Linked DNA regions of Homo sapiens. The protein of the gene in region 1 interacts with the protein of each later gene in a pairwise test. Each region holds a gene or a part of one and is shown on either strand. Other genes may lie near its edges.

Evidence for each region. The genes of interacting proteins can lie anywhere in the genome.
Region 2: the proteins of ATP2C1 (region 1) and GTF2IRD1 interact in a two-hybrid assay, tested with the Homo sapiens proteins (one large-scale study listed by BioGRID).

The regions. Positions count from the first base shown.
Region 1 is NC_000003.12:130,974,084-130,977,583, forward strand, and holds part of ATP2C1 (calcium-transporting ATPase type 2C member 1), read left to right. Parts: intron 1-1,248; coding exon 1,249-1,405; intron 1,406-3,500. UniProt on the Homo sapiens protein: ATP-driven pump that supplies the Golgi apparatus with Ca(2+) and Mn(2+) ions, both essential cofactors for processing and trafficking of newly synthesized proteins in the secretory pathway.
Region 2 is NC_000007.14:74,460,406-74,463,905, forward strand, and holds part of GTF2IRD1 (general transcription factor II-I repeat domain-containing protein 1), read left to right. Parts: intron 1-3,500. UniProt on the Homo sapiens protein: May be a transcription regulator involved in cell-cycle progression and skeletal muscle differentiation. May repress GTF2I transcriptional functions, by preventing its nuclear residency, or by inhibiting its transcriptional activation.

The DNA of each region.
Region 1 (3,500 bases):
AGCTTATCTGCTTCTTTGTTGTTGTGAAAAAATACCATGAGAAGGGTTTTATATTACATTGAAGAGTTTAGGAAGAATGAATGATAGGTATACAGAAAACAAATTAAAGAGGTGGTTATTAACTTTATAAAAGACAAAACTTGAACAGGAAAAGAAGTATCCTATTTGAGCTATCAATCAGGATAGGCCATGAAAACAACATCATGCTCTCCTGCTGCCTCCCTGTCCCCAAATATCTGCTCATTGTAGTTACTTGGGAATGCAGGCAGATGGAAGCTCCATTTTAATGTGAGCACACACTGTCACAGCAGGGGTAGAAGAATAGGAAATTGTGCACTGGCACCTACATTTCCATTTGGAAGTGACACAAGTACTCATGTTTATTGGCCAAAGCAAGTCATACCTGACCGTTGTGGAGTGAGGACGGCAATAGGGAAATACATTCCTGCCTCCCAGGAGAACTGGGATATTTGTGAACTGCTATAGTCATTACCACACTTGGCTTAGCAGCAAAGAGTCTTGTTGTAAACAAAATACTGGCAGATTTTGCTTTAGCTATATCATAAAGATGGGGAGGGGGGGAATAGATAGTGGAAATGGGGAAATTAACATCTGTCACAATAGACAGTGTATAAAATTGATAACTGATGGAGTAGCAGTATAAACATGTTAAAAACATGAGGGTAAATATCAGAGAAAACAGCTAAGAGAGTTAAAATTATTTTGCTTCCATGGAGTAGGACTAGTGGTGAGAAGCGTTGAACAGGAAACTGCAGTATTTCATTATAAGCTTTTGAAGATTATTTACCATGACAAAAAATAAAAGAAAAAGTGCGATAATACCCATAAATACAGTGTGATTGGGAGAATTAAATGGTGTTTTAGGTAGATAGATATAGACGTATATAGTAGCTAATAGAGAACTTGAACCATTGTGAGCTGTTATTTCTCTTCCATTTCCTGTTATGTTGCAGTGAGCCTCTTTCCACATTTCAGAGTGCCAAATTTGGGGCTTAGTATAGCATTGCCTTTTATGTGTGGGATGGTGGGATAGATGTTTTCTATAGAAGATACAGAAAGCTCCCCTATAGGAATATTTAATCTTCAGAGTTCAGGTGGCAGTCAAAACCTTAGGCTTGAGTAACTTCTCTGGGAATTATGAGAAATGAATGCCACTTAATTTTGGACTCCAATGGCAGGTAAGTACAAGTTGAAATTAAACTTGTGTTTGGTACATTTTCTTCTTAGGACAGACCAGAGATTTGTTTTATGAAAGGTGCTTACGAACAAGTAATTAAGTACTGTACTACATACCAGAGCAAAGGGCAGACCTTGACACTTACTCAGCAGCAGAGAGATGTGTACCAACAAGAGAAGGCACGCATGGGCTCAGCGGGACTCAGAGGTAAGGCTATTTCAGCATAGTCCCCTGGGGTGGAAAGGTAGAGCCTTCTTTTAATTGCAGATGAATTCATGCTTCACATTTGAGCTGTCCAACTCACTTCCAGGATTTGTAGAACCCTTGCCAGTATTGAGGTGTTAAGTTTTAGTTGGTTAATTGGCCCTCAAAAGATGGAAATTTGAGAATGTAGCAAAATATGAATCACTGGTTCTTTTAGATCTCCAGAGGTCTCTGAGTAGCTGATAGAAATTTTATTTTAAACAAGTTTATCTTATGAGAAGGGAAATGGATCGAGGTAAAATGGTGTTACTCTCTTTTTATCACTTTGTTTTAAAGACAAAAATACTTTTCTAAAAATTGAGTCTGAAGCCTCTAATATATCCTTTAAGGTGATTGCTAACTTGATCTGTTACTGTTCACCAGGGAGGTAAAGAAGTCCCCAGATTCTGCTTACTTATATGCTGCTGACTGAGCAGTGATGGGGAGAGGGTCTGCTGGACACACACACATTAGGCCACCTCTCCTAGGGATGTCATGTGTAAGACTCGGGGGTTGGTGGTTGGTGTCCTAACCTGATTCTTACCTTCTGGATAGTCATCTGGCTTCTGCAGAATATATGTAGTTATGTAGTCTCTCACAGCAGTTGGAAGAGTTGGCTTCCTTAATTTTATTATTTTAATGAAATAGGAGTCTAAGCACTACAATTTCTGGGAGGAAGAAAAACAAGTTATGTGAAAAATGTTTTTATTTGTTGTTCACTTAAGCAAAGGCTTTTTTTGAGTTTTAAACATTTTGATGGATTTATAGGGCTTCTGTTCTTAAAATAAACTAAGTTTGGAAAGGTACTCTTACCAGCAGAGAACATTGCTCCCAGCCTGCTGCCATTGCCCTTCTCTCTGAACCTTCTGTGCTGCTGAACCAAGATCACTCCTCATACCCCTGCCCCCAGAGCCTGGTGCATCTCATCTGGGATATGGGCTGTATTGTGACCATCTTAACACTTCATCCCCTGTCTCCAAGGAAATGGGAGGCAGAGACTCATGGCTGAGAAGTTATTTTGCAAATGGATATTTTGGATGGAAAAAAATTTAAAGGAAAACAACTTTTCCTTCCCCCTTTCCCCTTTTAATGTAAGAGGCTTTGATGACAGGTTCTAGAGTTTCTGGGGTTTCATCCCAAAGGCCTGAATCTGGAACATGCCCTGGATCCCCCCACCTCAGTCCTCAAGCTTTCTGGACCCCTGAAGCCAAGGCAGATTCTTTCTCCCAGCGTCATTTCTGGGGCAGGAGGAATCTCTTTTCTGGTTTACCTGGGCCAGACCTAAGAATAGCAGGATCTCTGAAACCACAGGGTTTTGATGTGTTTTTATCAAGCCAAATGTACAATTGCCAACTGACACTCTGGATAATTGAGCACAGGGGGTGCCCTCGTACATTGTACCGTCACTCCCTTCTGAACAGTTGGCAGACCAAACTGTTTGGAAGCTCAGATACTCTGGCTCAGGGTAACACTTTTGTTCCCCTTACACTCCTCAACTTTCCACCTCAGCTAGGGAAAGAGAATGACAGTTAAGGCTTGACCCAGGATTATAATCGTTAGAGCAAGTGGGAGTTTCAGAGACTTAAGGGGCACTGCAGGGAGGCCTTGCTGCCACAAAATTAGGGTTTGGATTGATAAAGCCTGTGTCGGAAGGGGCAGTGGCAGCTCCACTGAGACAATCCTGGGAAGACTGTGGTGCAGAGGGCCTGTTACTCCCCTGATTCACCTGATTCTGGGGCTTTGACCCTTTCTTTTTAAATTTACTTTTGCTAAGTTGCACTTATTTATTTTTTAAAAAGACCGTTGGTGAACAAAATGTGAACCCATTTCTTTCCTCTTTTGAACTTCTGGGATGTCATCACTTCCAGTTTGTTGGCTTTGTTTCCAGCTATTAATAAAGCATTAAAAGAGTGGAGAAAAAAAGGTAGGGAAGTGGGCAGAGTCTTGCTACTCTTAGCAGCACATAGCAAGAGGTTTTAAAGTGGCATGGATTTAGAGGACTTAAAGAGGTCTTGAAGGTCTAATATATGCTCCCTCTTTTTGTTAGTTTCTGGAACAA
Region 2 (3,500 bases), on another chromosome or scaffold:
ATTAAAAAAAAATTTTTTTTTTTTAGAGATGGGGTCTTGCGATGTTGCCCAGGCTGGTCTCAAGCTCCTGGCCTCAAGCGATCCTCCCACCTCAGCTTCCCAAAGTGCTGGGATTACAGGCAGTATCCTTCTAATGTCCTTGGTCGGGCCTCCTCCAGCCTGTGGCTCGAGGGTCTAGATCTCCTACTGGCCTGGGTGGCATGGAGGGTGTAGTCTAGGTGGCCTGAGGGGTGCCCAGGGATCCCCAGTTTGGGAAGTCCTTGTCTTCAGGGATTTCTGGCCAATGTGGTCCGTATATTTAGAGATGCTGGGAGGAGGGGGTGGGAAATTGCTGGAAACACCCTATTATACACCAAGTAAGATTTTCATGTAGGATTGGCAAGGCCTGAGTGCTGGGAAAGTGTCTGCAATGGCTACCTTTCAAAGCTGGGAGACCCCGCCACGGGGGCGGTTGTGGACTTGAGGGGCTGACCCCACAGCACGGAGGCTGCTGGGAATTCCTGCACCTTTGCCATGCTGCCACCTGAGGCAGGTTCCCAGCACCTGAGCTGCAGCCTCTGGAGTGGGGGAAATGGGGGGAAAGTAAGGGGCCGGGGTCATGGGGTCCACGTCCACCTTCCGCCCGCCTGGGCAGTTTTCTTGGATGTAAAAGGGAGATGGCTCTCCCCAACCTGCCTGGGTCCCAGTGTGGTGCTGTAGTCCAAGGGACTTGGTGTGACCCCGTGGGGATGCCACAGCATGGGTGTGTGGGACCCCCGGGGGCAGGTCTGTGGTGGAGACAGGGTGGGAGGGCCTGGCTTGAGGGCTTGCGGTCCTGGGCACTTGAGGATGCAGAAGAGGCTGCATGGTTGGGGAGGGTAGGTAAGCAGGGGGCAGCTTAGCCCTTTCCCCTCCTGTTCCCTGTGACAGAGGGGAGACCCTCCAGGCTGTTTGTGTCTTAGATGGTTGGCCGAGGGTAGGCCTCTTTGCTGGCTGGGGTCTAGCAGGGTCTCAAGGTGCATTTTCTGGCTACTGGCAGAACCACCATCAAAGCAAGTCCGTATCTTTTCGTCTATCCATCTGTTGTTACGCCAGCCAGTGAGGACCTTGCAGAGGCGTCAGGCCTGAGGGAGTCTCATTAGGTCCTGGTCCCCAGCCCCCGGCTGGCACATGAGAAGGGCCCACTTTATATTTTATTTTATTTATTTATTTAAGATGGAGTCTCACTCTGTCACCCAGGCTGGAGTGCAGTGGCGCGATCTCGGCTCGCTGCAACCTCTGCCTCCCGGGTTCAAGCAATTCTCTTGCCTCAGCCTCCTGAGTAGCTGGGATTATGGGTGCATGCCACCTCGCCCAGCCAATTTTTGTATTTTTAGTAGAGATGGGGTTTTGCCATCTTAGCCAGGCTGGTTTTGAACTCCTGATCTCAAGTGATCTGTCCACCTTGACTTCCCGGAGTGCTGGGATTACAGGCGTGAGCCACTGTGTCCGGCCCCACTTTATATTTTATTAAAAATATCGTTGAGGAGTGAAGGCTATGCTATACCAGGAACTTGCCTGGCTCACACCCTTATGTCGTCCAACCCCCGTCAAGACATAGAACAGCGCTTTGGGAGGCTGAGGCGGGAGGATGGCTTGAGGCCAGGAGTTTGAGACTAGCCTAGACAACATAGTGAAACCTCCATCTCTACAAGAAGTACAAAAATTAGCCAGGCGAGGTGGCTCATGCCTGTAGCCCCAGCTACTCAGGAGGCTGCGGCGGGAGGATCACTTGAGGCCAAGAATTTGAGACCAGCCTGGGCAACATAGCAAGACCCCGTCTCTTAAAAAAAAAATTAGCCGGGTGTGGTGATGTGTGCCTGTAGCCCCAGCTACTTGGGAGGCTAAGGCAGGAGGATTGCTTGACCCCAGGAGTTAGAACAATCCTGTAACCCCTAAAAGTTTTTGAAGCCCGTTTGTTCATCCTTGTCTCTTGTCCTGACCCCAGCAACCACTGATCTGTCTTCTGTATATGGTTTTCCATTTGTACAATGTCACATAAATGGAATCCTACAGTCCACAGCCTCTGAATCTGGCTTCACACAGCATAATGCATTTACGGCATTGCTGGGTACACGGGTAGCTGGTCCCTTCTGGTCCCTGAGTAGTGTTCCATGGTGTGGATATGCCACATACCTCTAGCCACTCTCCTCTCTAGGGAAATCTAGCAAACCGGCTTGGCCGGCCCTGCATCAGCTCGGGACCCCCCAGAAGAAGGTGGTTCCTCTTTCTCATTTTCACAAAGGCACCATCTGGCTGGCGGGGGGCCTGTGGCCTGCACCCCATCACTACCCACCCCCCACATCAAGAGCTGACCCCAAGCCGGGGGAGCTGCTCATCTCCGCCCTCAGAGCTGGAATTTCATCTTCTGTTTCTGGTGACTCATACTGTGAGCCCCGCGATGAAATTACACCTGCCTGCCGCTGCCCTCCGGGCCTCTGGCCCCATGCGATCCTCCCGCCGCCATCCAGGTGGGCTCTGGAGTAATTGAGGCTATGGGGCCAGGACAGCTGGAGGTTGAGGGCGGTGCCAGGGAGGGGAGCTGTCTGTGCCCTGGGGTGTCTTGCCCATCATCTTATGTATCCCCACCCTGTGGGAGTCTGGGGTTCCTGGTGGTGCGTCTCTGGTCTTCACTCCTGCAGCTGTTTTGCTTGGGGTAGAAGTTTCATGTTTGCCTGAAATAAGAGCAGGACTTCTGAGGGTAGGGAAGGAAGGTGGTGAAGCCACTGTTGCAGGCAGGAGCAGGAGTTAGGATCAAACGGAACAGGGCTGGCCGAGTGATGTCACATCTCTGGGCTTTGGTTTGTTCATCTGTTCTTATTATTATTTTGAGACAGGGTCTCGTTCTGTCACCCAGGCTGGAGTGCAGTGGTGCAATCATAGCTTGCTGCAGTCTTGAACTCCTAGGCTCAAGTGATTCTCCCACTTCAGCCTCCTAAGTAGCTGGGCTTGGAGGCACTTGCCACTACACCCAGCTAATTTTTTTATTTTGTAGAGATGGGGGTCTCGCCATGTCGCCCAGGCTGGTCTTGAACTCCTGTGTTCAAGTGATCCCACAACCTCAGCTTCCCAAGTGCTGGGATTAGAGGGGTGAGCCACTGCGTCCTGCCTGTTCATCTTTAAGTGGGAGAACAGAACACTAGGTTTGCAGGGCTGTGAGACTCAGCTGAGGGTAATGTGAGTGTGTGGATTACCACAGAGCCCTGGAGGGCCCCAGGGGCCACCAAGGAGCGGGTGGTGGGGACATGTGAGGCTCAAGCCTCCTGTGCCCCTTTGGGCCAGAGTAGGACCACTGTTGTTTTTTGTTTTTTTTTTTTTGAGACAGAGTCTCACTCTGTCGCCCAGGCTGGAGTGCAGTGGCGTGATCACGGCTCACTACAACCTCCGCCTCCCGGGTTCAGTTGATTCTCCTGCCTCAGCTTCTCGAGTAGCTGGGATCACAGGTGCGTGCCACCACACCCGACTAATTTTTGTATTTTTAG